Linked DNA regions of Homo sapiens. The protein of the gene in region 3 interacts with the protein of the main gene of each other region in a pairwise test. Each region holds a gene or a part of one and is shown on either strand. Other genes may lie near its edges.

Evidence for each region.
Region 1: the proteins of VPS9D1 (region 3) and DYDC1 interact in binary tests that used the Homo sapiens proteins (3 or more experiments, as listed by UniProt).
Region 2: the proteins of VPS9D1 (region 3) and CCDC172 interact in binary tests that used the Homo sapiens proteins (3 or more experiments, as listed by UniProt).
Region 4: the proteins of VPS9D1 (region 3) and AAMDC interact in binary tests that used the Homo sapiens proteins (3 or more experiments, as listed by UniProt).

The regions. Positions count from the first base shown.
Region 1 is NC_000010.11:80,339,501-80,346,815, reverse strand, and holds part of DYDC1 (DPY30 domain-containing protein 1), read left to right. Parts: intron 1-2,000; coding exon of another isoform or gene 2,001-2,033; exon of another isoform or gene 2,034-2,071; intron 2,072-4,454; coding exon 4,455-4,547; intron 4,548-7,315. Other genes in the region: DYDC2 (DPY30 domain-containing protein 2), read right to left, coding at 2,001-2,033. UniProt on the Homo sapiens protein: Functions as part of axonemal radial spoke complexes that play an important part in the motility of sperm and cilia. Plays a crucial role during acrosome biogenesis.
Region 2 is NC_000010.11:116,319,364-116,327,548, forward strand, and holds the start of CCDC172 (coiled-coil domain-containing protein 172), read left to right. Parts: upstream 1-5,084; 5' UTR 5,085-5,250; intron 5,251-5,282; exon of another isoform or gene 5,283-5,386; intron 5,387-5,583; 5' UTR 5,584-5,648; coding exon 5,649-5,727; intron 5,728-5,939; coding exon 5,940-6,025; intron 6,026-7,794; exon of another isoform or gene 7,795-7,812; intron 7,813-8,185.
Region 3 is NC_000016.10:89,717,590-89,725,779, reverse strand, and holds the start of VPS9D1 (VPS9 domain-containing protein 1), read left to right. Parts: upstream 1-4,881; 5' UTR 4,882-4,918; coding exon 4,919-5,017; intron 5,018-5,197; exon of another isoform or gene 5,198-5,412; intron 5,413-6,396; exon of another isoform or gene 6,397-6,575; intron 6,576-6,677; coding exon 6,678-6,753; intron 6,754-7,257; exon of another isoform or gene 7,258-7,261; coding exon of another isoform or gene 7,262-7,334; intron 7,335-7,614; exon of another isoform or gene 7,615-8,190. Other genes in the region: ZNF276 (zinc finger protein 276), read right to left, coding at 2,071-2,520, 2,597-2,643, 2,946-3,249, 3,935-4,139.
Region 4 is NC_000011.10:77,824,144-77,831,458, reverse strand, and holds part of AAMDC (mth938 domain-containing protein), read right to left. Parts: intron 1-7,315. UniProt on the Homo sapiens protein: May play a role in preadipocyte differentiation and adipogenesis.

The DNA.
Region 1 (7,315 bases), on a different chromosome or scaffold from region 3:
GGCATGAGCCACCGTGACCAGCCTAAGATGGCTGTTATCAGAAAGGGAAGAGACATGGCCGGGGGCAGTGGCTCACACCTGTAATCCCAGCACTTCGGGAGGCTGAGGCGGGCAGATCACAAAGTCAGGAGATTGAGACCATCCTAGCTAACATGGTGAAACCCCGTCTCTACTAAAAATACAAAAAATTAGCCGGGCGTGGTGGCGGGCGCCTGTAGTCCCAGCTACTCAGGAGGCTGAGACAGGAGAATGGTGTGAACCCAGGAGGTAGAGCTTGCAGTGAGCTGAGATCGCGCCACTGCACTCCAGCCTGGGTGACAGAGTGAGACTCCGTCTCAAAAAAGAAAAAAAAAAAAAAAAAAAAAAAAAAAGAAAGGGAAGAGACACACATTGGTGAGGGTGTGGAGAAAAGTGAACTCTTCTACACTGTTGATGGGAATACAAATTGGCGCAGCCATTATGCAAAATGGTATGGGTGTATTTCAAAAAATTAAAAGCTACCATATGACCCAGTAATTCCTCTTCTCAGTATATATTCAAAGGAAATGAAACCAGCACCTTATAGAGACTACTTGCACTCCCATGTCCATTGCAGCATTATTTACAATAGCCAAGATTTGGAAACAACATAAATGTCTGTCAGTGGATGACTGGATAAAGAAATTGTGAGCTGATCACAGTGGCTCACACCTGTAATCCCAGTACTTTGGGAGGCCGAGGCCTGAGGATCACTTGAGGTCCAGAGTTCGAGACCAGCTTGGGCAACATAGGGAGACCTCATCTCTAGAAAAAATGTATAAATTATCCAGGCATGATGATGATGGCATGCACCTGTGGTCCCAGCTACTCAGGAAGCTGAGGTGGGAGGATTAATTGAGCCCTGGAGGTTGAGGCAGTGCCACTGCACTCCCACCTGGGTGACAGAGCAAGACCCTGTCTTGAAAAAACGTAAGATGTATTTCTCATGTATATCTTGTATATATATATCTCACATATATGTATCACATATATGTATATATAAAAGAATATTATTCAGCTTTAAGAAAGAAGTAGGTCCTGCCATTTGTGATGACATGGATGAAACTGAAGGACATGATGTTAAGTGAAATAAACCAGACATCAAAAGAAAAATACCACATGCTGTCTATGTAGAAATCTTAAAAAAAAAATGTTGAATACATAAAAAGAGAGAATAGAACAGTGGTTACCAAGAGGTGGAGTGGGGGTAGGCCTGGAAGAAGAATGAGGAGATGTAGGTCAAAATGTACAAAATTGCAATTGTGTAGTATGAATAAATGTAGAGATCTAAAGTACAGCATGAGGATGATAGCCAATAAGATTGTATTGTGTACTGGAAAATTTTTAAGAGAGTAGATTTTAGGTGCTCTTACCATACAAAAGTAACTGTCTAAGATGATGGATATTGAAATTGCTTACCTGTGGTAAGCATTCACTATATATATCAAAACATTATATGCATCTTCAATTTACACAATAAAAAGTTAAATCTTGACCCTGAGCTCAAAAATTCATAATATAACTGTTAAGCCATGGAACTGCTGTGTGGTAGGACATCAGGATATATTCAGCTTCTGTTTCTGACAAAAATTCACAGAATTGATGGTCCAGTTTACAAGAGTGAATGAAGGTCACTGTTGACACTGCTGGATCAATAACACATAATAGATTCAAATACTTTCACAGAGTAGCTGCTGTTGAGTAATATGATGAACACTTCCCGGCTTTAAACACTATTTTCTCATGAGCTTTGTAAATTTGTTCAGCTCAGCCTTTTTCTATTCCACATGTATTTTTATCACTGTCAGCTATGACACATCTTAGCAGATTTCACTGCAGGTTGTATTGAATCAGTGTTTCTACACGACTTTGAAAATGCTCTTGTCTGTAATTGTTCCATGAAGACTGTATTAGTCCATTTTCAAGCAGCTGATAAAGACATACCCAACACTGGGAAGAAAAAGAGGTTTAATTGGACTTACAGTTCCACATTGCTGGGGAGGTCTCAGAATCATGGTGGGAGGCGAAAGGCACTTCTTACATGGTGGCAGCAAGAGAAAATGAGGAAGAAGCAAAAGTGGAAACCCCTGATAAACCCATCAGATCTCGTGAGACTTATTCACTATCGTGAGAATAGCACAGGGAAGACCAGCTCCCATGATTCAGTTAACTCCTTCTGGGTCCCTCCCACAACACTTGGGAATTCTGGGAGATACAATTCAAGTTGAGAATTGAATGGGGACATAGCCAAACCATATCAAAGACTATTCATAGAGGTTTGGTTTTTCAGTCACTTCAAACTCAGCATTGACCCTTTCCATAAACAACAACTGAGCAGTGTTGGGAACATCTGTCTGCTTATCAGGAGCCAAGGAAAGCCACTCAGAATCATGTGCCTTGTTATTAGTTGACTACTGATGTTGCTCCCAGTGTCAACTCTGAGCAGCTGCTCTCACCAAAAGGCTAAAATCTTAGACAAGTTTGTTTTTTCCTGGACACATTTTTTTTGGCCACTGAAATAAAACATGTTTTAATTCACTCATCATTGGTAAATATCTTTCCTTGCTTTCATAACAAATGAGCCTCTTGGAACCCTACTTTTGTTGCAGACTTATTTTCATTTTTAATTTTTGTAAATAAATTCTGCTGTGATAATTCTGTTTTTGTTATTTTTATTTTTTTAAGACAGAGTCTCGCTCTGTCACCCAGGCTGGAGTGCAGTGGTGCGATCTCAGCTCACTGCAACCTCTACCTCCCAGATTCAAGCAATTCTCTTGCCTCAGCCTCCCAAGTGGCTGAGACTACAGGCACCTGCTACCACGCGTAATTTTTTTTGGTATTTTTAGTAGAGACAGGGTTTCACCATGTTGGCCAGGCTGGTCTTGAACTCCTGTCCTCAGGCCTTCCAAGTGCTGGTATTACAGGTGTGAGCCACCATGCCCAGCCAATTCTGTTTTACATTTTCTAATTTTTTTTGGCCTTTGTGCTCTGTGAGCTGGGACTATTGTGATGAGTGCTTAGTCTGGTAATGTTGATATTTATTATATTCTTTTGGTACAGTGGCACTGTATAGCAAGAAACATGTTTTGCCATTTAATTTGATGACAAAATAATACACACTCTAGTGTGCCTTAAAAGTGCGACATTCAAAATTCACTATTTTTCTTTTTTTTTTCTCAAAATTTTGTTTAGAGATGGGGGTCTCGCTATGCTGCCCAGGCTGGTCTTGAACTCCTGGCTTCAAGTAATCCTCCTGCCTCGCTCCTGAGTAGCTGGGATTACAGGAATAAGCCACCCATCCCTGGCTTTCTTGTTTTGACATAATGGATATAATTTTTTTAAATGTCACAGTATAGTGATACCATGGCACTCCAAACACTGCTGTTACAATGATGTTACTGCGGTTTGTAGTGTGCTGGGCAGCCAGGCAAAGTGGTGAGTGCACCACATGTGGTCTCTGTTATAACTACTACACTCTGCTATGGCAGCACAAAAGCGCTCGTAGACAATACGTAAACAAATTAGCATGGCTGTGTTTCAATAAAGCTTTAAGGATGCTGAAATTTACATTTCATACCGTTTTCCTATGTCATGAAATATTATTTCTTTTAAATTTTTTCTATTTAAAAATGTAAAAGCCATTCTTTCTTTGTAAGCTATAAAAAACAGGAGGTGGGTTGGCTTTGGCCCACAGGCTTTATTGCTGAACCCTATTCTAGTGTGACAGATATGCTGAGTTGGGAGCAAATATATTGTTGGTTAGTAATGATTTCAGATGATATTCTTTTTTCTTCTTTTCTTTTTTTTTTTTTTTTTTGAGAGGGAGTCTTACTCTGTTGCCTAGGCTGGAATGCAATGGCACAATCTCGGCTCACTGCAACCTCCACCTCCCAGGTTCAAGCGATTCTCCTGCCTCAGCCTCCCGAGTAGCTGAGATTACAGGCATGTGCCACCCTGCCCAGCTAATTTTTGTATTTTTAGTAGAGACAGGGTTTCACCATGTTGGCCAGTCTGGTCTCAAACTCCTGACCTCAGATGATCTGCCTACCTTGGCTTCTCAAAGTGCTGGGATTACAGGCATGAGCCATCAGATGATATTCTGAAGAGTTTCTCACCCACTCTTCCACAACCAGTGTGTGGCTATTTGAAGACCCATCTATGCTTAAAGAAATTTATCTGGAAAATTGTTGCAATCTCATTTGTTACTTTAAGAAGAAAAGGGAAAATAATTTTGTACAAATTGTGCTTTCTATAATTTGCAATTAAGGAAGATTAAAATCTTTTTTAAAAATTTTATGCTTCAGGAAGCATTTGTAGAAACTAAAGTATTAGTTGGATGTGACCATGTATTGTAAGTTTCTGAAATGAAGGTGGGTATAAACTTAATTATCTTGCAATTAATCTAACTGTAATATGACATATTTCTGAATATTCAGCAACAGCTGGCATTGCAGCTAGAGTTGGAAATGCAAGAAAAGGAGAGGCAGAGAATACAAGAACTACAGAGAGCTCAAGAACAATTAGGCAAGGTAATTTGAAGTTTTATAAATGTCAGTTTTATTTAAAACTCTCTAGAATCTTCAAACTGTTTATTTCAGCTGTTAGCAGAAGGACCATGGGATTTGTAGTCTGAAGACATGCCACATACTAGCTGTGTAAGCTAAACAAGTCTCATAACCTTTTTCAGTCTCAGTTTACCTGTTTCAAAACTAGAGCTAGCAGTATAATACTATTAGCAATGTCTCACTGGTTCCTTTTTTTTTTTTTTTTTTTGAGACGGAGTCTCATTCTTGTTGCCCAGGCTGAAGTGCAATGGCACAATCTCGGTTCACTGCAACCTCGGCCTCCCAGGTTCAAGTGATTCTCCTGCCTCAGCCTCCCGAGTAGCTGGAATTACAGGCACGCACCACCACGCCCGGCTGATTTTGTATTTTTGGTAGAGACAGGGTTTCTCCATGTTGGTCAGGTTGGTCTCGAACTCCTGACCTCAGGTGATCCACCCACCTTGGCCTCCCAAAGTGCTGGGATTACAGGCATGAGCCAGCGCCCCTGGCCGTCTCACTGGATTCTTATACAATCAAATACAATCATGTTTGTGAAACTTCTCTGTGAGCAGTAGGGTTCTCTAATAGTGATACCCTCAACATTTTAGTCAGGAGTTAGCTGTTCCTAGTTACAGTAGCTGATGTTGAATATTGAGGGTATTCCAATCTCGGAGGCAGTAGTATATGTCTTTATGTTAATGTATTAACAACAAGAATTTACATTTTAAAATATGTTCATACATGGACTTTCATTAAAATAAACTATGCAGTAACTTTTTTCTTTCTTTCTTTTTTTTTTTTTTTTTTTTTTGAGACAGAGTCTCACTCTGTCACCCAGGCTGGAGTGCAGTGGCGTGATCTCGGCTCACTGCAACCTCCACCTCCCGGGTTCAAGCAATTCTCGAGCCTCAGCCTCCCGAGTAGCTGGGATTACAGGCACGCACAACCATGCTTGGCTAATTTTTTGTATTTTTAGTAGAGATGGGGTTTTGCCATGTTGTCCAAGCTGACATGATACAATCATGTCAGGTCTCTAGTTTGACCCATATTTCCTGCATCCAAAAGCTATGAGTCATATAGACCAATATTCTAGATGACTGAGTTTATAGCTACTATCTCTTAATCAAATGTTTCTCCCCCTTTTTATTCCATAATTAAAGCTGAAAAAAGAAGCAGGTTTTATAGACAATGTTCATTATGTTTATTGATGCTTAGATGAGAGAATCATTTATTAAAGCAATATTTAAAAAGTGTGAATGGTGAATTAAATCAAAAAGTGAGATTTTTTTTAAAAGGATAAAAGCCCTATACATAGTTTTAAAAAATACAGATGCTGATGCGGTCTTAGTCTGAGTGTAGTGTGAGCACAGGGATATGCCTGTATGCACACATACACAAGCAGCCCCTTTCTCTTTAAGATTCACAAAGAAATAATGTTTAAGGTGATGGATATCTCAAATATCCTGATTTGATCATTACATATTGTATGCTTGTATCAAAATATCACATGTACATCGTAAATATGTACAGCTATTTATATCAGTAAAAATTAAAAATTAAAGAAATTTTGAAAAAGATTCACGGATCTAAACTGAAAGAGAAAATACAGGAACATATCAAGAAGGCAGTGATCAAAATAAAGGAATTTAAAGTATTTTTAATCAAAGTGACCTGATAGCTACATTAAAGTGCTTCAAAGTCCATAGGAAGGATTGGTCTCTATTTTATGGCTCCAGAGAGCCACACTCATGTTATTTTACTATCTCCAGACATCATCAGCTTGTGTGACCACTGCCAGAATAACTTTAGTAATTCCTATTTCTATAGGCTTATCATCCCTCACCATAGCATAGGTAGTCCCCTGCAAAGTACCACTCCCTCGCCCATTGCTCAGAGATGAGTCCACTCATGTGCTTTCCCTTGGCCTTCTTATGGCTGCAGACTCGCAATGTAAACTATCATGTGCAAAGGGAAGTTTGCTAGAAGGATTCTGGGTTGAAGGAAGGGTTTAACACATAAACTGTGAAGGACTCTGGTATCACTGGGCCTTTCAGACTTTGGGAGCAAGAGAATCAGATGCTACCAGGGCTCTCCCCTCTGCTGCTCCCTGGTTATTAGTTTCGCTCTTTCACTATGGGCTGCTTTGCTGCACATGGGTAGGGAACATGGGCCTTAACGGCTTCTGAGGCTTAGAATGTTGTGGCTTCTACCATCTAAGAGGAATGGATGCCTTGTTTTAGTTTCAGTTAAGAAAAGAATCTTGGAGAAGGATTCTGACTGGCTTAGTTTGTGTCAAATATCCATCTCTGTGGCAGGGGAGCATAGTCCTATAAGAATATGGATGTTCCCCATATAGCCTTGTGGATGCTGGATAAGAAGTTACCAGGAAAATGGAGTGGTCTTGGGAAAACAGTGCTGTTTATGTCCCTATCATTAGGGTGACCATATGTATGATCAAGAAATCACTGGTCTTCTAGCAGCCAAAACGAATCAGCTCAGGGTCAGTTAGGCCACCCTGCTGCTTTAGAATGAAAAGGTAGATGGCATAGCAAGGTTTGGCTGACTAGAAGAATGTTTCACATTCAGAAAGAGGCCTCCCTTATTGGGCAGTATATTCCTACTGCAGTGCTCAGAGTATTAAAGAGGGCATTGCTCAGGTCCTGTGGGAGGACTTGTGCATTGGGCCAGATTAGTTCCTGTAGAAGTGTTTACTTCTTTCTCGGTATGTGCAAAACTCTACTTAAGTGTGGTTT
Region 2 (8,185 bases), on a different chromosome or scaffold from region 3:
AGTACATCCCAAATGACCGTATTTGGAAATAGGGTCATTTTTAGATATAATTAATTAACATGAGGTCATGCTGGATTGGTGTAGGCCCTTTATCCAATATGACTGGGGTCCTTATAAAGAGCGGAGAAGAGGCCAGGCGTGGTGGCTCACGCCTGTAATCCCAGCACTTTGGGAGGCCGAGGCGGGCAGATCACGAGGTCAGGAGATCGAGACCATCCTGGCTAACATGGTGAAATCCCATCTCTACTAAAAATGCAAAAAATTAGCAGGGCGTGGTGGCGGGCGCCTGTAGTCCCAGCTACTCAGGAGGCTGAGGCAGGAGAATGGCGTGAACCCAGGAGGCAGAGTTTGCAGTGAGCTGAGATAATGCCACTGCACTCCAACCTGGGCGATAGAGCAAGACTCCATCTCAAAAAAAAAAAAAAAAAAGAGGAGAAGAGAGAAAGAGACAGAGACACACAGGGAGAATTCCAAATGACAACAGACGCTGAGATAGGAGTGACTGTCTATAAGCCAAAGAATGCTAGGGTTGACCAGTAAGCACCAGAAGCTGGGGAGAGGCAAGGAATAGATTCTCCTCAAGAGCACCCACAGGGAACAAACTGAGCTGACACCTTGATTTTAGACTTTCACTCTCCAGAGCTGTGAGAGAATAAATTTCTGTTCTAAAACACTCAGTTGTGGTACTTTGTTATAGCAGCCTCAGGAAACAAATATAAATATTAGGAAACAAATATAATATTTTGCATATAAATTGCATTTTTAGCTTTATGTATTAAATATATGGTTGGTGGAATAAGCATTTATAACAAGACATAACCCAGTTTCAATTATTTTTCCTTAAATCACATCTTATTTTAATTCATTACAAATACACTGCATTACTAATCCAAATTGTAGAAGTCTGAAATTTCTTTAGAAAAAATATTAATTTGCTGGTAATAAGCATTTTTTTGAAAATGTCTCTACCTTGAAACAAAACACAGCTACTTAAATAGTCTTATTTTCTCCTGCCTCTAGTTTTTAGAGGCAGTAAAGGGAAGTGGTTAAGACCTTTGCCTTAAGAGACCATCAGGATTCAAGTTCTGATTCTGCTGCTTCCTAGCTACTGTATGGGACCTTAGACAAGTTACTTGGCTATGGTGTCTCAGTCTCCGAAATAATAAAAGCATTAATCTCTTATGGTTGTTGGGTCAATTAAAAGAATTAATACATGTCAAAGTCTCAGATGGTTATTGTCTCATAGCAAGGGCTATAGCCTGAATGTTTGTGTCACCCCCACATCAAATTCATATGCTGAAATCCTAACTCTTAAGGTGATGGTATTCGGGGGTGAGGCTTTTGGAAGGTGATTAGGTTGTGAGGGCAGGGACCTCATGATTAGGATTGGTGTCCTTATAAAAGAGACAGCAAAATGCTAGCTAGCTCCTCCCACCATGTGAAGACACAGTAAGACCCTTTCTATGGACAAGGAAATGGGCCCTCACCAGACACTGAATTCGCTGGCACCTTGATCTTGGACTTCATAGACCCCCAGAACTATGAATAATACATTTCCATTGTCTTTAAGCTAGCTAGTTTATGGCATTTTGTTATAGAACCCTGAATGGACTTTGCCAGTGAGCTATTCAACACATGCTACATATTAGTCTCTCTTTTTTAAATTTTTTAAATTATACTTTAAGTTCTGGGATACATGTGCAGAATGTGCAGGTTTGTTACATAGGTATATACGTGCCATGGTGGTTTGCTGCACCCACTGACCCATTAGTCTCTTTCTTTTTACTACTTGTAACTTCCTGCCATGAATAGACTGCATAAAACAACTCTGACCCATGACTTACCCGATCACAAACATTATGTAGTCCTCCAACACATATATAAACATGTTAAACATCATCCAACTGTTGACCCCATCCAACATTCTGCTATTTTTCTCCATTACTTTATATTTGTTGAAGTACCACCCTCCTTTAAAACCCAGCTCATATTTTATATCCTACTGATAGTCTTCGTAGATCACCCACGTATGACTTCTTCTCACTCCCTCTCCTATATTCCCATAGCACAAGGGTGAAGCTCTTAAACACAGCATGCCTTGGAGTTATTTGTGCATACTATGTCCCATTTGGTAGACTATCACCTCCAGGAGAGTAGGGTCTGTACCTTTTCAACTTTGTATCCCCTATAGTACCCAGCAGAGAATTTTACACTTAGTAGAGCCTCAATAAATGGTTGTTAAACTTGGTTGAACCCACATATTTTTTTTTCTTTGTGGCAGATGCCCTAAGACAAAACATAAAATAAATGAATTACTTTTCTTATTTCCATTGCAATATATATGCCCTGGGCTAGTGGGTATTTGCAAGCCTGGTTTAGAACTTAGGGAAGTCATCAATCTAGGAAAGGAGAGGAAATACATTTTAAATCACAAAAGCAATATAGCCTTATATAAGGCCTTCTTAGCAAAGCAATTATCAATGGCTCAATAACCCAGGTGCTAGTGTTATTATGAACAAAAGTCTGAGGCTGAGAGACAATGAGTGATCTTAACTTTTATATTCCATAGGTATGCAACTCAATGGAACATGTACAGATGGAAGGTTTAGATCTGAGAATCATATCTGTGTATTACAATGCAAATAACTGACCATCCTTCTAAAGAACATCTGTTGAAACATCTGAAAGCAGTTGTTTATACGGCTGCCAAAATGCTAAAAAATATAATAATTCTCCAGTGAGGTTAGAAATATCCAGGGGAAGAAAAATACTTTTTTATGTAGTTCTGCTTTATTAAATCTTGTTGTTTTTTCTCTAATATGGCACATAGGAGATGCTCAATAATATCTGTTGAATGAATAGCAGAAACTCATTAAACAGTTGTTGAATGAATCATCTCTGTTTTTTTAGACTTATAAGGCACATTTTCAGAAAACTGTATGCCCAAGTTTTACCACATTGTATACCATTTTTATTTGGCATAAATTTAAGTACTGCTGCTCTTGCCCTGAACATTATAAGATGTAATGAGCACGGATATCTATAAGAAAAACTATCTTTTAACACTACAGAAAATGTATAAATAAACCTAGATATACAATAGCAGTATTTTTAATTATCTTAATATGTCACTTTTATTATTATGGGACACTTAAACTTTGAGTTGTGAGCTCATATGAATCATATTCGCTTCAAAAAACAAAATAAAATTTAAAATTCCTGCTAACGTGTATAGTTATGATACCTCTTAGAAGATTGTAACTTTGGATTTAAAAGCACCAAAATATTCTGGTATGTGAAGAAGAAGACTGCAGAAGATGAAGAAGCCATTTCTCCCCATACCCCCTTTCTTGAATTTCCAGCAGCTCTTTCTTCCATACTCCTGTGTAAGTGAGGCAACTGCACTCCCCAAAGACTGCCCAAATTTTACTCTGCCAGGTTTCAGCACAGAAAGAGCATGTTAAATAATACATGTGAATTTGAGTGTAACTAATAAAATTGGAACGTTAAATAGCAGCATGTTTTTGAAAACCAGCCTCCTTGTGATGACGTTCCTTGTGCAAGTCCATGGGAAATAATTCTGAAGGGAGTGTTATTAATTAGTAATGTAATTTATCTTCTGGAAGCCCTTTCCTTTGATGGCCGCTGTGGTACAGTTTATAAGCCTCCAAACAAGTGCTCAAAGAAAACTGTTCAAACCACAATTTCAGCTTTGTTTTCACCCTTGAACAGATAAGAGTAAAACTTATTTTGGTATATCTAAATTTTACACATGCCTCTTTATGGTGGAGGATTATGAAGTTATAAATATATATTTATGAAGAGTTTTTAATGAAATGGTAAAATGTCTGGGATGTAATAAGAGGATAAAATAGTAGACTCCAAAATTAAATTCATGGCTTCTGATTCCAGATTTCTTGGTTTCAGTTCTCACCACCCTATATGAGGTACGCAACTATGGCAATATACTTAATTGTTCCGTGCCTCAGTTTCCTCAACTACGCTATGAAGGTGATAGCAAAAATTATCTCAAAAGGATATAGGGTGTTCAAAATAGTGCCTGGCAAATAATAACAAATTATTATTATTACTGATTCACAATAATTTCAAATTTATAAAGGAAAAATGAAGAGTGAGGAGGGTTACCTTGAAGGGAATTGGTAAAATGTTAATATGTACTTCTAAATGACATGATTATGGGCAGTTCTTTTCTGCTTTGTATACTTTTCAGTATTTATTCTTTTAAAATAAACTCAAAGAATTAAGTTTTATGCATCAATGGCTTGATGGAAATTAAGGCGGAAATTTGGAATAGGTTAAAATGTATAACTGATTAGACTGCAGCATTAATGAAATATTAATTAAGCCTATTGTGATGTGACAGAATTAACATTTACCTTATTTTACTTAATTTTAAGTACATTCTGACAAATTACTTTTTAAAGTTCAACCAATGTCAATTTTACATTCATAAAGTCAAATGTTTATTTTACTTAATTTTAAATACATTCTAACAACAAATTACTTTTTAAAGTTCAACCAATGCCAATTTTACATTCAGAAATAAAGTCAAATGTTTATTATAATGTCAATATTTCAACCTACTAAAACTAAAAATATTTTAATTTTTGATTTAAAAAATCCCACGCAGAAGTCCCAAAGGTGCCTTTCATGTTTAAGCTTTAATTAGCAACCACTTTGGTCTCTGACACATATTGCGCAGATATTGAAGTGTTAATATTACTGCAGCTTGATTACAAAAGGCAATGATTAATTTTAAAGCAGACAAAAAAGATATGCCCTGATTACAAAGGAATGATTAAGGCGGAATGTCAGACATTGCACATTTATAGCAGTCTTTGCCATCGTCAAAGTATAAGACTTTGTAAAAGTTTATATTTAGAATCACAGTTACTTTGTACTTTATAATATTCAGTGTTTGCGCCTTGGATACCGGGCAACCCTACTCCAACTGGGCCTAAGACCTTTGGGGTTCACATGCCCAGGGCAAACCTGCCCCCCACAGGATGGTCCCAATGAGCCGCCGTAGTTTAAGTTCTCACAGGCAAGGCCCGACCTGAAGCACTGGCTCCAGCCTTAGGGAAGGTTTTGGCCGTGGGTTTTGTTGGCACGTACCATTTTGCTGAAAGACAGAGCACCTTGAGGACGTTATCCCTAAAATGAGAGAGGACTGGGATTGAAAGGCTGACTACAGAAATGGCTGCTGCCCAGACGCCCTCAAAAGCCAAGGTCTTGGCAGCCTTTTTATTTGCCACCAAAGCGAAAAACAAACCCAGGGAGGGACGGAGGCCTGAGTCAGGGGTTCCGCCAGGGAAAAAGGCAGACCTTGAAACTGCCCTCTTAGGGCGTGAGGGAGAAAAGCCCGGTTTGTAAACTGTAACGGGAAACAAAGGCTGAGGGCAGGAAGGGGCAGCAGCGGCCAGCGTCCCTAGACCCTCAGACCCCTCAGACACCGTCTGGCGTCGGGCTCCATCTTCTTGCTGGGCTGGCGACAGAGGGTTGGAGACAGGTCTATCTGGGAATGGTTCTAGAAGAATCCATCTTCTTTATTCTGCTTTCCAGGATCCTCAGAGTTGGTTATAAAATATTTAAGGGCGAGAAAAGGATCGCAGGAGCCAGGCCCTGAGATGAGCTTGGAGTCCCTGTTTCAGCACATCATCTTCACCGAGCATCAGGCGGAGGAGAGTCGCCGTTTGATGCGAGAAGGTCGGGGTATTTCTGTCCTTTGCATGGGGCCTTTTGTCTTCTGATGCTGGGTGCTTGGAGCAGAAGGAAATCCCGAAGGCAGTGGTCAGAGCCGTTAGGGGAGCTTGCATGCCATGCTGAGGGAAAGACAACTGAAAGGTGGCTTATCAAACGCCACCAAAATGGGGACTTTAGAAAGATTGATGTGTTTAAAGATTTAATTTTTATTACAGTAAGGTCGGAAATAACCAGATGTCGTGAAAAAATTAAGAAAGCAACGGAGGAGCTGAATGAAGAGAAAATCAAGCTGGAATCTAAGGTATTGAAATGTAAAGCATACTAATTATCACTTGAAAAAGCCTGCCTTAACTTGACTTTTGGGGGATATTTCAGTGTTTAACCAGTTGTCCTTCAAGTAGGAAGCACGTTACTCTGTGCTGGCTGTTTTAGTTCCATGTTGCCTGGTGATGTTTAAAGTTCTGAATCCCGTGACACCTTCAATTCCAAGACGAATTTGCCCTAAATAAACTAAGGTAATGAAGAATTCATTGTCCATTTTGTGGGATGGTTAAGGTTTTAAAAGAGCACAATGTCATTAGAAGAATCATTATTCCACTTATTTAATAAGTAGTTGGTGCAGTATATACATTTTGAATGATAAATAATTTGTGTGCTATGTTGATATAACAATTGCATGTAAATTTCAAACAAGCCCCTGCCTTTAGTTTTAAAAGTCTCTACCACATTTTAGACATGCCTTGCGTCCGAAGTATACCTTTTCCATTAGCGTTTCTCTCTTTCCTGCAGCGTTTGTAATGTTCTGTTATTTTAAAAAGAAGCAAGAGAGTCTGATGGCTTCTTGAAGGATGGATAGAATTTTGAAGAGGCAAATAGAAGGAAGTAGTAGGAGGAAAGCGTTCCAGACAGAAGGAGGAGGCAGATATGTGCAGTGCATATTGGGAAAGGAATCTAGTCAAAGCAAAGGGCTGATATCTGGGAATAGCAGAAAACCGTTGCAAGTTCCTGATCAGGGAGCAGTAAAAGTGGGTTTAGGTAGCCTAGTATGGTGGCACATGCTTGTAGTTCCAGTTACTCAGGAGGCTAAGGTGAGAAGACAGTTGTTCAGTTTAATGCCAGCCTGGGCAACATAGTGAGACCCTGTCTTTAAAAATAAAAGGTAGTTTTAGGAGGATCTTTCTGAGCTCTGATTGGGAAGATGGGAATAGACTATTAGGAAGCTAAGAATATTATTTAAGTGTGCCACAATGAAGGCCTCGCTATGGGTGGGGACAGAGAGTTATTCAAAAATATTTATTAAGTACCCAGTGATGAACTAAACAAGCACTGTGTAATATGAAGTCTGTTTGAGGAAGTCTGTCTGCTTCAAATATAACTATTTTAACTTACCACTTTGAGGAATTTTCAGTTTTCTTTGGGAATGAAACAATCAGAGAACACTTCTCCATCTGGCGAATTTCAGCTTTTCTTTCCAGGTGTTGCTCAAACATCACCAATAAAGCCTTCTTTATTTATACAATATTTATTATTTATACAATAAAGACATCTTGGTAAAATTTTAAAATTAAACAATGATACATACTTGTATTTGTGTTTGTATCCCCCACTATTTTGTGAGCTGCGTATCTGGAATTTTTTTCCTTATCCATCTTTTATTCTCACTGCCTGTTATCTAACAGTATATAGTATACAGTAGTGTGTTGAAAGAATTGAGTACTAATAGTTTGATAGATAATAGGGAGAGTCTTTTAAAATAGAATTTGTAACGGTTATTCAGTGAGATCCTTCCTCCTGTTTTGCCTGTGAATAGTAGGTAAACTAGCTGCTACCAGCAATGCTGAAAGCTGGTGGTATGGGCAAAACATTAAGAATGTTATGATGCAACTTTCTTTCTCTTGAAAAGGAATTAAGACACTTTCAGGATTGATATCTAGAAGCTAATAGAAGTAATGGGCAAAATATGAGCACTTACTGTATGCAGGGGCACTGTTCTAAATGCTTCTCCTGTATTAACTCCTTTAATCCTAACAGGAATCTTGTGATGAGACCCCATCATTATCCCCTTTTTATGAGTGAGGAAACTGAGAGGTAAATGACTTGTCCACGATATATAATTCAGAAACAATTAAACTACCATAATGAAAGTAACAATTGAGTAATAACAGCATATTTTATTAAAGCAGATTTCTTAAGCTCACTTTAAACATTTTTCGTCATGACATTCATGTATAATAATATAACTGAAGTTTTGTATCTTGTTTAGGTTAATATTTTTAAAAGGTTGCTTATACAAGTTTTTGTACAAAATGCATTTTTCCTGGATTGGTGAGGATATTGACCTGATATAATATATTTTTTAATGTTACTCTGTAATATTTTCTTTGTTAGCAAAGTTTTGTTTTGTCTGCAAATGGAAATGTAATTTGTTGATATATACACATACATTAAAAAATGTTGATTC
Region 3 (8,190 bases):
TTGCTCTGTCGGTCAGGCCAGAGCGTAGTGGTAGAATCTCAGCTCACTGCAATCTCCGCCTCCCAGGGTCAAGCGATTCTCCTGCCTCAGCCTCCCAAGTAGCTGGGCCTACAGGCAACCACAGCCACATCCAGCTAATTTTTTGTATTTTTAGTAGAGATGGGGTTTCACCGTGTTAGTCAGGATGGTCTCGATCTCCTGACCCCGTGATCCGCCTACCTCAGCATCCCAGAGTGCTGGGATTACAGGCGTGAACCACTGCACTTGGCCTAAAATAAGTTTTAAAAAGTATTGTTCTTGGCTGGGCGCGGTGGTTCACACCTGTAATCCCAGCATTCTGGGAGGCTGATGCAGGTGGATCACGAGGTCAGGAGTTCAAGACCAAGCCTGGCCAACATGGTGAAACCCCATCTCTACTAAAAATACAAAAATTAGGTGGGCGTAGTGGCGCGTGCCCATCATCCCAGCTACTCGGGAGGCTGAGGCAGGTGGATCACGAGGTCAGGAGTTCGAGACCAAGCCTGGCCAACATGGTGAAACCCCATCTCTACTAAAAATACAAAAATTAGGTGGGCGTGGTGGCACGTGCCCGTCATCCCAGCTACTCGGGAGGCTGAGGCAGGTGGATCACGAGGTCAGGAGTTCGAGACCAAGCCTGGCCCACATGGTGAAACCCCATCTCTACTAAAAATACAAAAATTAGGTGGGCGTGGTGGCATGTGCCTGTCATCCCAGCTACTCGGGAGGCTGAGGTAGCGGTGAGCCAAGATGGCACCACCGCACTCCAGCCTGGGCTACAAAACGAGACTCTGTCTCAAAAATAAATAAACACATAGATAGATAGATAAGTAGGTAAATAAATAGATAAATAGGTAGATAAGTAGATACATAGATATACAGATAGGTAGGTAGATAGAGAGAGACAAAGAAGTAGGAAGATAGATAGGTAGGTAGGTAGATAGATACACAGATAGATAGAATTGTTCTCAACACACTGCATACAAGTTTACAGAGCCAAGCAGCTCTAAGATGTGACACTCACAATCCCGTTCCTACCTGAGGCCCCCGAGCCGCACTGTCTCATCTGTGCACCCGTATCTAGCTAAACTATCTGGGTAGCTGTGTTTCTGTTTGGGACAGAGTCTTGCTCTGTCACCCAGGCTGGAGTACGGTTGTGCGATGTCGGCTCACTGCAACTTCCGCCTCCCAGGCTGAAGTGATTCTCGTGCCTCAGCCTCCAGAGTAGCTGGGATTACAGATGCCCACCACCATACCTGGCTAGTTTTTGTATTTTTATTAGCGATGGGGTTTCGCTATGTTGGCCAGGTTGGTCTTGATCTCGTGACCTCAAGTGATCCACCCACCTCAGCCTCCCAAAGTGCTGGGATTACAGGTAGCTACGCTTTTCGGAAGCTCCCCTCAAGACTCAAAGTGGGAACTGAGTGCTCAGGTGGGGACAGGTGCACAGAGCACACACAGGACAAGAGGCCGGAGGGAAACTGGCCCTGGCCCTCCTAAAACAACATCCAGGAGCAGCTGCACCAGCCCACAGTGCTATGGGTTCTGGGGCCCAAACAAGGGCCTTGTGTTTCCCCTCAGCCTGTCAGCAGAGAAAGCTGCGCCACACTGGCCCACACCAGGGTGTCACCAGGCGGCTGGCTGAGTGCCAGGAAATGACCTGCAGCTGGCCCAGGGCAGCAGCCGCAGAGGCAACGGCCATTCTTTTCTCCCACATCCACAGACAAGGCCCTATTCTTCCCTCTTCCTCAGTCCCCTCAGCCCCAAGCACAGGCTTAGAAAAAGACTCGACGGCTGATGAGCGTGTCTCCACAGAAACTGCTGGAACAGAGCCCTGCTCACAGAGGAGCAAGAGGCGGAGACAGGCTGGCCGCCCCTCCCTGCTCTCTGGATGTGGTGAGCAGCCGCAGGCAGAAGCCCCAAGCTCTGCTCCTTCTCACACCACACCCCAGCCACCACCTAGAGCAGTGGAGACATTCACTTTCTGCTGAAAACCCTGCCCCACTGAGGAGCACACATCCTGGTCTAGCACCAGCAAGAGGTGCCTCCTACCTGGGGCCCTGCAAAGGGGCAGGCTTGGCTGAGGTGGGAAGCCCGACCTGGGCCCCACCGCGTCGCTGTCCGAAGGAGGCTGGGCCACATCCGTGCTGGGCAGGGTCTTGGTCTCAGCCCCAACTGGGGTCCCTGTCCCTCTACCCTGGGAGGTCTGAGGGGCATCCCCAGGGTTCCACCCTCGGTGCTGGGGCAGCCGTGGCGCCGTCTCTTTGTCCCATGGCCACTTGACTGCCAGCGCACTGTCCAGCAAGAAGGCCTTGCAGCTGGAGCTGGTATCCATGGTGTAGTCGTGGCCCTGGTCGCAGCCCCACACGACCTGGATGACGCCGCAGTACTCGGAGGACAGTGTCCTCTGAAGGTGGGGCAGGGCCCCGCAGCTGGCCGCATGTCCATGCACCCACCCCACCAAGCCGTGCAGGCACTGGGGGCTGGATGTGATCAGATCCACTGCAGAGAGTCAACAGAGATGTCAGATCCACGGCTGGTCGGCACCCAGCCCACCCTCCACCGGGGGAGGACTCACCCAGACACGCTCCCTCCTCTGCCCCTGTTGGGGGCTGGGCACCGACCCTGCAAAGGATCAGTGTGGCCATGAGCAGGACAAGCAGGCGGAGGTTCACAGCGCTCGTCGTACGGGACCCTCTCGAGATCTCAAACCTCAGCGGTCCCCATAGGCAACTTTCTCTTCCCTCACCCCAGCTCCTCCCAGTTCATCTCTCCACAACAGTCCCAGGGCTGTTGGCACTGAACCCGGGCATGGCCCATTCCCCCCACCCAGAGGCTCCCGCGGAGGCACGCCCTGTCCCTCTCTCAACACCCGTCACACTGCAGTACTGACAGCCTGAACGTGCTCTGAACAGACTAGGGCGTACTTTGCACAAGGCTTCCGGCGACCAGCCGGGGAGGCGTTGACCCTCTGCAGGAAGGACTTGAGAAGGCTGTGGCACTGGTAGAACTGGGCGTGGCAGCTCTTGCAGACAAACGGAGACAAGGTGGGGTCCTGGCGGACAGCCACACCAAGCAGGCGCTGGAAGTCCCGTACGAGCACGCGCTCCTCTGCGGATGGCCTCTCCATGCTCGCTCCAGGCGCCCTCTCGGAGATGCTGCGCAGGCTTCTCGAGGAAAACTTCCCGTGGCAGAGGCGACAGTGACCCATGGCGAGAGCCCGGCCTGCTCCTGCACAGAGCGGCAGGAAGTGTTAGCAGCTGGCAAAGGAGGCTCCTGAGCACAGGGCGTCCCGGACTCCAGGTCCGAGGGCAGCGCCTGCAGCGCCCTTCGCGCGGCTCCCGGACACAGCAAGCGGCTCGGGCGCGCGGCTCTCGGCGGGACAAGCCGCCCTGTGGGGGATGTGGCCGCTGGTCCAAGAAATCTTTCAAATTTCAAAGGCCTCTAAGGCCTCTCCAGCGAAGCAACTTCAAGAGTGAAACCTGGAACTGCACCCTCCTCCCAGCGACCGCGAGACCCGGGGCAGGCGCTGCGCCCTCCAGGAAACGCCGCGGTTTCCTGTCTGCCAATTGCAGGTGCCGCCTCCTTTCCGGCTCCGCGAGGGCACGAAGCAGGGGAGGGCGATTCCCACGCGCGGGCACCCCAGGGCGACCTGCCCGCGGTGACAGCGCTCCTCACGCCGGGTCCCTTCTGGCCGAGCCCGCGGCCGGGGAGGCCGGGCCGGCGACGCCGGCGTCACGGAGCGCGAGGAAAACCGAGCCGGCCGCCCAGCGCCTATCCCGACGCAGCCCCGAGTCCGCTACGCCCTTGGCCGGGTGGAGGAGAGGCCGCGCCGGCTTCCGGGCGTCAGTGCGGCTCCTCCCACGAGCAACCCCTGCCGCGACCCCAACCCGCCACGCCCGGGCCGCGGACCCACCTGCCTCGTCCGCGCCGTCCTCGCCCGCGTCCCCGCAGGACCCCACCGGGCCCCAGGCGCGCCGCGCCGTCGCCCCGTCCACCCTCGGCCCACCGCTAAGGGAAGGGCGGCCCCGAGTCCGGCTGACGCCGCCGCCGCCGTCCGAGGCCCCGCACTGTCGGGACGACCCAGGAGACAGGAAGCGGCCCAGCCGGTCCCGCTTCATGGCAGCGGAGGACGCCAGCAGAATCCCGCGGGTGCTGCCCGGCCCGAGGTTCCTAGAGGACCCGGCGTTAGGCTCCGCTCGGCGCGCTGGAAGCGAGGCGGGGCGGGGGAGGGGCGGAGCGAGAAGCAAAGCGAGGCGGGCGGGGCGGGCCAGGGGCCAGGGGCGGGACCCCGCCGGCCGAGGTTCCACCCGCGGTGCCAGCGCCCCCGCTCGTACCGCTCCCCTCTCGGGCCCGAGGGCGGCCGTGCCCGCCTCTGTCGCCAATGGAGCGCTGGCCTGGGGCGGGGCGGTGGGCGGAGGGGCTCGCCGACACCTCACGACGAGTCCTCCAGGGAGAGGCGACGCGGCCCTCACCGCCTCTTACCGTGGGAGACGGAGGCGCGGGGCGGGCAGGCGCCGGCGGAGGCCACGCGGCGCGCAGGTGGCGGGCGGGCTGCAGAAAGGGGAGGGGGGCCGGGGTCTCACGTAGAGAGGGGCCTGGCTGCCGCGGTTAGACGCCCATGGCAACTCCGTGAGGGGCCCTTCTCGCCAGCCCCGTCTCAAGACGGCGAAGAGGCCCGGCTCCGTCGCGACAACCCACCCGGACTCTGCCGCCCCCGCCACTAACACCCGTGGGGCCCGCAGTACGCGCGGAGGGGGCCCGTCGCCGGAAGTGCGGCCGCGTCCCTTCCTGCGGTCCGCTGCTCGGGCGGCTCCAGCACCAGCGCCGGCTGCGTTCCGGGCCTCCGGTCGCCCGTCCAGCCCCTCGGCTACCGCCGCCGCCTCCCCCGCTCGGCGCCATGGCCGCTGCGGCCGGGGACGGCACGGTGAAGCCGCTGCAGAGCGCCATGAAGCTTGCCAACGGGGCCATCGAGCTGGACACCGGCAACCGGCCCCGGGTGAGGCGGGGCGGGGGCGGGGCTTGGCCGCTGAGGGTGGCCCCTGGAGGGACCCCCGCCCGGGGAGGGCGAGGACGGGGCCGGCTCGGGCTGGAGACTTGGGAGCGGGCGCCAGCCGGGATCCCGGGCCGCGGTTCCCGGGCGAGGACGGGGGCGGGGCGCAGCCGGGCGTGCAGTGACCTTGGACAGCTCAGATCCTGCGGACCTTGGCTTTCCACTCCGCTCGCTGAGCCGGTGCATCACAGCCTGGGCTCCACCTGTAGAGGAGATGTAGCAGGAGGGTCCGCCAGGCCACCTTCCAAAATCCGAGTGACGGGCAGGTCCGTGCGTTCGTGCATTTTTCTGGGCAGAGATGGTAGATTTAATCCGGTTGCCACAGGGGACGGCATGCAGAGAAGGCCACATACCTGCTCATTTGTGATGCTGTTTGCAGTCGTCTTAGGAAGGAAAAGCAGGCCGGAGGGGTGTGGCCCGTTCCTGAGATGGGGCCGAATCTAAGGTTGGCGACCAGGTAGAGAAGCTGGCCCAGCCACACCCGGCTGCCCAAGGAGGGAAGGAGCCTGCCTGTGCCTAGGAGAAGCCTCGTTCCTGAATCTGCTGCTTTCCCCAAGTTGGTTTTTAGGGCAGCAGGTGCCCCCGCAAGTCAGAAATCCTGCCTGGATTATATTTCGTCTTTCTCTCTGAGGCATAGACTTAAAGATAGGAAACTTAACAGCTAGGGATAAAACAAAAAAACATAGCATATTGCTGGGCGCTGTGGTTCACGCCTGTAATCCTGACACTTTGGGAGGCCCAGGCGGTGGATCACCTGAGGTGAGGAGTTTGAGACCAGCCTGGCCAACGTGGTGAAACCCCGTCTCTACTAAAAATACAAAAATTAGCTGGGTGTGGCGGTGCACACCTGTAATCCTAGCTCCTTGGGAGGCTGAGGGATGAGAATCACTTGAACCCAGGAGGCGGAGGTTGCAGTGACTCGAGATCCTGCCACTGCACTCCAGCCTGGGCGACAGAGTGAGACTCTGTCTCAACAAAACAAAACAAACCACCATTCTGTGGTTCCAATGACCTGTGCCTTGTCAGAGGGGTCACACAGCCTTGAAAGGTAACAGTTCTAGGCTCCTGTGTGCACTGGAAATACGTAACTCGCAGGTTCTGGGAAAGGGATTTCTCGGAACTTAAACCGGGAAGTGATTTGAAAACTTCCAGTATCACTCCCTTTATCCTCTCAGAAAAGTATTTTTTTAAGCCACTGAATGAATCACCCTTGAGTTGCACAAGAAGGAAACATTGCATAGAATGAAAAATGACAGCAAACTGCTGAGGTCACTTCCCCAGGCCCACTGAATGAGAATATCAGTTCCTGTGCTGGAGAGAAAGGCAGTCAGAGGAGAAAATGAGGTCCAGCTCGTCCCTGGCTCTCTCTCTCTCTCAGGTCCTGATGTCTTTTCCAAGTCTGGAGAGCAGCGATGCTGCCTGTGCCCTGCGCAGAAAACCGTGTTCCGGCTGCAGCTAACCACCGCAGGCTCAATGTCTCTGGGTGTATCTCAGAGATAAGCAGGTGGTGGTGTTCCTTGCTTATCCCACAAGGGCACCTGGCCGGAATAATGGAGTCACTTCCCTCCACTGGCCTGACCCCACTCTTTCTCTTTCCTGGACACAGGAGGCATACACGGAATACCTGAGGAGCATCCACTATATCTCCCAGGTGTTACTAGAAGAAGTGGAAACCACTAAAGGTACGGCTCAGCCAGCCGGGCGCGGTGGCTCACGCCTGTAATCCCAGCACTGTGGGAGGCAGAGGCGGGCTATCACCTGAGGTCAGGAGATCGAAACCATCCTGGCTAACATGGTGAAACCCCGTCTCTACTAAAAATCTAAAAAATCAGCTGGGCCTGGTGGCGGGTGTCTGTAGTCCCAGCTACTCGGGAGGCTGAGGCAGGAGAATTGCTTGAACCCGGGAGCAGAGGTTGCAGTGAGCCGAGATCACCCCATTGTACTCCAGCCTGGAACAAGAGCGAAACTCCGTCTCAAAAAAAAAAAAAAGAAAAGAAAAAGAAAAAGGCATGGCTGAGCCCTGCTGCTTCCTCCATGCTGGACAAATTGTGGGCATCCTAGCCCTTGATGGGTGCCAGGCTTCGGCGGGGGTCTCTTGTATCCTTCTAGCCTGACCATTTGTAGTAGGTGGACCAGCCCACACTCAGTGTGATATAGTGGCAGGAAGGGACCAGCGTTGTGGATAAGAAGATGGAGACTGGGGTGTGGCAAGACACTGGCTCCAGTGAGCGGCACAGACGTGGGGCAGCATTCCAGCTGTGGGGTGTGCAAAGGCCCTGAAATAGGAGTGGGCGGGGTGGGGCTGTGTGCATGCCTTGGGTGGAACTGGGGCCGTTCTGGTGTGCAGGGAAACTTGAAGAGACTTTGAGCTTTGAGGGAGAGGACAGCCTGGGAGTGGAGCCTCAGGTGAGGACTGAGGATGGCAGTGGCCAGACCACCCAGGATGGGAGCAGTAAACGGCCTCGGGGTGCGTCCTGAAGGTGGAACAGAGCAGACTTGCAGGAGGCAGATGGGGCAGGAGCAAACTGGCAAGGAGAGGAATAGCAAGTTCCGCAATGAACACATTAAGTTTGAGAGGCCAGCAGCCGCTGCACAAAGGATCACAGAGGTCAGGGGGAGCCACTGGACATAGAGCACAGAGGTCAGGGGGAGCCACTGGACGTGGGATCACAGAGGTCAGGGGGACCCACTGGACGTGGGAGCACAGAGGTCGGGGGAGCCACTGGACGTGGGAGCACAGAGGTCGGGGGAGCCACTGGACGTGGGAGCACAGAGGTCGGGGGAGCCACTGGACGTGGGATCACAGAGGTCGGGGGAGCCCCTGGACGTGGGATCACAGAGGTCGGGGCAGCCACTGGACGTAGGATCACACAGGTCAGGGGGAGCTAACAGTTGCCCCAGCTCCCTAGGGAGCCGGTGAGCTCGGCTGAGCTCTGGCGCTCCAAGATTGAGGAGTTGGGTGGAGGAGTGGCAGAGGATCCCCTGGGGAGAGCAAAGTCCCAGAAGACAGAGGAACTCCAGTGGCCCACCGTGTCTGGCAAGGTGGGGACGGGTAAGGGCAGTTTCCGGGGGGAGTCGGGGGCTAAATCGGGGCGGGATGAGAAAATGGGAGTCTATGA
Region 4 (7,315 bases), on a different chromosome or scaffold from region 3:
AAACAGCTAATGGCCATTGGGTTGTCTCCAATTTTTGACATTAGAAACAATGCTTGTTATGAACATTTATGTAAAAATTTTTTCATGGACATATGCTCATTTTTCTTGGGTATAGCTAGGAAAGGAACTGCTGGTTCAAGTAACTTTATGTTTATCATTTTGAGGAGCTATCAGACTGTTACATAGCAGATCCACAACTTTGCAATTCCACTAGCAGTGATGAGGGTTCTGCTTTCTCCATATCCTTGTCAACACCAATTTCAAACCATCATTGTGGGTGTGAAGTGGTATTTTTTTCCTTCTTTCTTTTTTCTGAGACAGGGTCTTGCTTTGTTGTCCAGACTGGAATGCTGTGACATGATTACAGCTCACTGAAGCCTCGACGAATTCTCCCATCTCAGCTTCTCAAGTAGCTGGGACTACAGGTGCATGCCACCATGTCTGGCTATTTTTTTTTTTTTTTTTTTTTTTGGTATATTTTGTAGAGACAGGGTCTCGCCATGTTTCCCAGAATGGTCTCAAACTCCTGGACTCAAGCAATTCTCCCACCTCAGTCTCCCAAAGTGATGGGATTACAGGTATGAGCCACTGTGCCCAACCATAAAGTGCTATTTCATTGTGGTTTTCATTATTTATTTCTTGATGATCAATGATGTTGAGTATCTTTTCATTTGCTTGTTGGCTATTTGTATATTTTCTTTGGTGAAATGCCAATTATTTGTCTTTTTTATTATTGACATGTGTTTTTGTAGAGCACCCAATCCTGTTGCTGTTTGGGGTGCCACTGTGTAACCCACACGGACCTATGGGACTGAATAAAGGGGGGCAAACGCGGGAATAAAAGACAAGAGACAAAAGAGTATATTTGGAAGAAGGGGTCGGGGGCACCTTGCCTCTAGTGGACAAGGGCCCTGAGCTTTACACAGCCCTCCATATTTATTAGGCAAAAGAGATAGCAAGAAGTGGAGGTGGGTGGGGGGTGGGTGTCGTCAGCAGTTTGATTCACGGCAGGTTTGTAAGACTGCATTCTTCAAACAATAGGCGCTAGATTTCTCAATAGATAACTTTAAGGAGCCCACTGCCAGGGAGTGAGGCCCTCAGCAAACCTTTTGGTGGCAGGGCAGTATCAGTTTGCCCACATTCTGCATTCATGATAAACAGTTTGCTGTTTGATCATATAGCCTCCAGCGGAATGCTTAGTTGGTCATGATCCCTTTGGCCTTTTGAGCTCCCAACATGTTTTTAACATATTCTAGATGAATCTCTTACTGGATGTATTTTTTCCTATTTTGTAGGTTGTCTTTTGACTTTCTTTTCTTTTCTTCTTTTAGGTACAGGGTCTTGCTCTGTTGCCTAAGCTGGAGTGCAATGGCACAATCAGCTTACCACAGCCTCAAAATCCTGGGCTCAAGTGATTTTCCCACCTCAGGCTCCTGAGCAGCTAGGACTACAGGTGTGCATCACCATGTCTGGCTATAAAAAAGAATTTTGTAGAGATGGGGTCTCACTATGTTTCCCAGGATGGTCTCAAATTCCTGGCCTCAAGTGATCCTCCGGCCTTGGTCTCCAAAAGTGCTGGGATTACAAGCATGAACAACTGTGCCCAGACTTGATTTTCTTTCTTAAGCCCCACATTTGAACTGATGGTCTTGACTTTTTGATACATGTTTTTGTAAAGCACACAAGTTTTTAATTTTGATGAGGTCTATTAATTTATTTTTCCTTTTGTTGCTTGTGGATTTGGTGTTATTTCTAAGAATCCATTGCCATATCCAAGGTCTTAAAGATTTACCCTTGTTTTCTTCTAAGAGTTTTAGTTTCAGGTCTCACAAATGTAGTCGTCTGAAACATTCTGAATTATTTATATGGAATGAATTAGGGGTTCAACTTCATTCTTTTCTATGTGGATCTCCAGTTTTCTCAGCATCATTTGTTGCAAAAACTATTCTTTCCCCATTAGATGGTCTTGGTATGTTTATTTTAAATCAATTTACTCTAGATGTATAGGTTTATATGTGAGTCTCCATTCTGTTCCATTGACCCAAATGGCTATTTGTTATTCAGCCTGACTACTATAAAAAATACCATAAATTGGTAACTTAAACAACAAAAATTTATTTTTCACAGTTCTGGAGCTGGCATATCCAAGATAAGGTGCTGGCCTGACTGGTATCTCGTGAGGGCTTTCTCCTTGGGTTGGAGATGTCTGCCATCTCTCTGTGTCTTCACATGGCCTCTCCTTGGCATATGCATGTGAAGAGAAAGAGCTCTCTCTCTATTTCTGTTCTTATAAAATTACCAGTTCTATCACATTAGGGCCCCACCCTCATGACATTGTTTAACTTTAGTTAACTCCTTCCTATAGGCATTATCTCTAAATACAGTCACATTAGGGGTTAGGGCTTCAACATATGAATCTGGGGGAGACACAGTCTGTCATATGCCATTACTACACACAATCTTGATTACCGTAGCTGTGTAGTAACTTTGGAAGCCAGGAAGTGTGAGTCCTTCAACTTTGTTCATCATCTGAAAAACTGTTTTGGATATTCTGGGTTCTCTGAATTTCCATATTAGTATTAGGATCAACTTGTCAATTTCTGCAAAGAAGCCAGCTGGAATTTTGATGGAGAGTGAATCTGTGGAATCTGTACTTCAACTTAAAGGTATTGGCATCTTATCAATATTAAATCTTCCAATCCATGAATATGTGTTTTCTTCCCATGTACGTCTTTTAAAATTTCCTTGAACAATGTTTTATAATTTTCTTTCTTTTTTTTTTTTTTTTCGAGATGGAGTCTCACTCTGTTGCCCAGGCGCAGTGCAGTGGTGCGATCTTGGCTCACTGCAAGCTCCACCTCCCGGGTTCACGCCATTCTTCCGCCGCAGCCTCCCGAGTAGCTGGGACTACAGGCGCCCACTACCCCACCCGGCTAATTTTGTTTTTGTATTTTTAGTAGAGATGGGGTTTCACCATGTTAGCCAGGATGGTCTCGATCTCCTGACCTTGTGATCCATCTGCCTCGGCCTCCCAAAGTACTGGGATTACAGGTGTGAGCCACCGCACCCGGCTATAATTTTCATTCTTGTATTTCTTTTTAAGAAATCTCTAAATATTTTCTGATTCTATTGTAAATGGAGTTATTGATATCATTTTTTTGCTGTTTGTGTATTTTGTTTTTTTGAGACAGAGTTGCGCTCTGTCACCCAGGCTGGAGTGCAGTGGTGCAATTTTGGCTCACTGCAACCTCTGCCTCCCAAGTTCAAGTGATTCTCCTGCCTCAGCCTCCCTAGTAGCTGGGATTACAGGTGCGCATCACCATGCCCAGCTAGTTTTTTGTATTTTTTAGTAGAGATGGAGTTTCACCATGTTGGCCAGGCTGGTATTGAACTCCTGGCCTCAAGTGATCCACCTACCTCGCCTCCCAAAGTGCTGGGATTACAGGCAGGAGCCACTGTGCCTGGTCTGATTTCATTTTTGGATTGTTCATTGCTAATGTACAGAATAACACAGGATTTTTGAGTATTTATCTTGTATCCTGCAAATGTGCTTGCCTATTTGTTCTAATAGCTTTATTTGTGGATTCTTTAGGATTTCCTACATACAAGATCAGTAATTTAAGATAGAGCTTGTTTTACTTCTTCCATGCCAATCTGGATGCCTTTTATTTTTTTCTTGACACATTGCACTGGCTACAACCTCCAGTATAATATTAAATGTAAGTGGATATAGCAAACATCCTTGTCTTGTTCCTGACCTTAGGAGGGAGGAATTAGTTTTCAGCATTCCATATATTAGGCATGGGTTTTTCATAATGCTCTTAATCAGGCTGAAAAAGTTCCCTTCTCTTCCTAGTTTATTATTTTTAACATGAAAGAATATTGAATTTTGTCAAATGAGTTTTCTGCATCTATTGAGATGACTATGTTGTTTCTTTTATTCTGTAAATATATTACAATATATTGATTTTTAGATTTTAAGCCAATATTGCATAGTTGGGATGAATCCCACTTGTTTATGGTGTATAATCCTTTTTATATGTGGTTGGAACTGGTTTGCTAGTATTTAATTGAGGATTGCTGTGTTTGCTAGATTCACATGAGGTATTGGGCTTTCCTTGTGATATTTTTCTCTATCTTGCTACTAAGGAAAATCTGTCCTCACAGAATAAGTTGGGAAGTGTTCCCTCTCTTCTAGTTTTTGGTATGAATTTGTGAAGCATTGGTATTGATTCCTATTTCAACTTTTGGTAGAACTGACCATGAAGCCATCTGAATCTGAGCTTTTTTTCTTTTCTGAGGGGGGCGGGGCCAGGGGCAAATTTCAAATTCCCAATTCGATTTTTTTTTTTTTTGAGACGAGTTTCGCTCTGTCACCCAGGCTGAAGTGCAGTGGCCCCATCTCAGCTCACTGCAACCTCTGCCTCCTGGGTTCAAGTGATTCTCCTGCCTCAGCCTCCTGCGTAGCAGGGACGACGGGTGTGTGCCACCACACCCGGCTAATTTTTGTATTTTTAGTAGAGATGGTGTTTCACTATGTTGGCCAGGCTGGTCTCGAACTTCTGACCTCAGGTGTTCTGCCCACCTCGGCCTCTCAAAGTGCTGGGATTACAGGCATGAGCCATTGCACCCAGCTCCAATTCAGTATTTTTACTTATTATGGGTTCATTCAGATTTTCTAGTTGTTCTTGAGTGAGTTTCCATAGTTCATGTTATTCTAGAAATGTGTTCATTTCATTGAGATTATCTGATTTGCAGGCATACAGTTATAGGGTCTGGTGTGTCTGTTTCAAAGGTTCGGTTGCTGGGTGTTGTTGGAGACAGACTGGCTAGCCAGTGTAGCAGGAGTGTACTTGGGAGGCTCAGGGTAGCGACTATGCTGCAACTGGCATGTAAATACAGTATCTTAACAGTTTAACAGTCAGTACAGCCTTTCTGGTTCATACAAGTGAATATCAGGCCTTGCTGTATAGGATGTCAAACTGCCGATGATTATCCCTGTTCTGAATTATTTAATAATAAAAATTTAAAACACAGACACATAGCTAAAAGACATAAAACATAATAATACAGGCTGTCCCCCATCTTTTTTTTTTTGAGATGATGTCTCACTCTGTCACCCAGGCCAGAGTGCAATGGTGTGATCTTGGCTCACTGCAACCTCTGCCTCCTGGGTTCAAGTGATTCTCCTGCCTCAGCCTCCCGAGTAGCTGGGACTACAGGCATGCACCACCATGCCCACCTAATTTTTGCATTTTTAGTAGAGACGAAGTTTCACCATGTTGACCAGGCTGGTCTTGAACTCCCACCTCGGCCTCTCAGAGTGCTGAGATTATAGGCATGAGCCACTGCTTCTGGCTACCCGCTCATTTTTCTTTTCAGTAAAAATCTTTACTCCATCGGAGAAACCAATCTTAGCCAGGCTTGTCAGAGAATAGACTCATGCATAAGTCTCAAAAAAAGATGGGTAGTAAGACGGTGGCTCACGCTTGTAATCCCAGCACTTTGGGAGGCCGAGGTGAGCAGATCATCTGAGGTCAGGAGTTTGAGACCAGCCTGGCCAACGTAGTGAAACCCCATCTCTACAAAAAATACAAAAATTAGCCGGATGTAGTGGCACTTGCCTGTAATCCCAGCTACTTGGGAGGCTGAGGCAGGAGAATCACTTGAACTTAGGAGGCAGAGGTTGCAGTGAGCCTAGATCGTGCCACTGCACTCCAGCCAGGGCGACAGAGTGAGACTGACTCAAAAAAAAAAAAACAAAAAAAATGGGTAGTAAGACACTTCTAAAGGTGTCTTCTTCAATGAATAGAATTCTGTTGTAACACAGAATTCAGTTATCAAGACAAATATCCAGAAAATGGTTGGTTTACATCTTGTTTGTATTAGGGCTTCCTTTTATTTTCATACATCTTCTTATTAAACTATCTCAAAGAGTAGAGATTCCTATTTCTGTTGACACTTAATAGCTTTTTCACTACATGTAATATTAAGTCCATATACCTTCAGCTTTTTTGAACCACCGTGCGCAGCTTGTTTTAGCTTTTTTAAAGTGAGTTTTAGATAAACCTAATTTGCTCATCCTTGATTAGGAATTCCCCAAATTGGCTCTAAAATGGAATTCAGTTTGCCTCAATATACATTTACTGAGCTTATAATATCCATTAAAAAAAAAGCAGCCAGGCCTGGTGGCTCATGCCTGTAATCCCAGCACTTTGGGAGGCTGAGGTGAGCAGATCACAAGGTCAGGAGATCGAGACCATCCTGGCTAACATGGTGAAACCCCGTCTCTACCAAAAATACAAAAAAAATTAGCCGGGCATGGTGGCAGACGCCTGTAGCCCCAGCTACTCGGGAGGCTGAGGCAATAGAATGGCGTGAAACCAGGAGTCGGAGCATGCAGTGAGCTGAGATCGCGTCACTGCACTCTAGCCTGGGTGATAGAGTGAGACTCTGTCTCAAAAAGAAAAACAACAACAACAAAAAAACTATGTAACAAATGCAAAGATAACATATGAAGGAGACAGAAATGTGTATAAATTTGTATAAAAGGCAGACTGGTACCAATGCTAATTGGGATTATATAGGAATAAACCATTAACTTCTAAAATTGAAGCATAATTGCATTGCATTTAGTTGAATGCAGTGTTTATAGAGTTCAATGAATTTTGAGAAATAAACTTGCCAATCAAGATATAGAAACTATCTACAAAGTCCCCTTGTGCCCCTTTCTAGTCAATACCCTTCCAAGCTCAAAGGAAACAACTACTTTGATTTCTATTGCCACAGATTAGTTTTGACCTTCATATTGATGGAATTGTACAGTACCTAACTCTTTTGTGTCTGCCTTCTTTTACTCAACATGTTTTTAAGATTCACCCAGGCTGTAGTGTATATCAACAGTGTGTATTACTCTGAGTAGTATATCACAATTTATATTTTTCTGTTGATGAATATTTGTGTTGTTTTTGACTTTTTGGTATTTTTAATAAATTAGCCGTTAATTCTAATTGAGCAAAATATTTCCCCCTAATAGGACATGAAATTTGAAATATCTTAAGAAATTTCTTATTCATAAACAAAGTTGAACCAAGTGTAACTTAATGCTTATTTAAAGGCCTCTTCATGGCAGTAGCAATAAATCAAATACAGGTTTTAAAAATAGCTACTCTTTTTTGCACCTTTACATTCCAGTCTGATAAATATAACTCACTTATATAACTACATAAATTGTCGTTAAGCTCTGTATTCCACAATTTCTCTTAGCCCAGGAAAGCAAGAAGTGATGATAGCATTATGGGTGTGTGTCATTTAT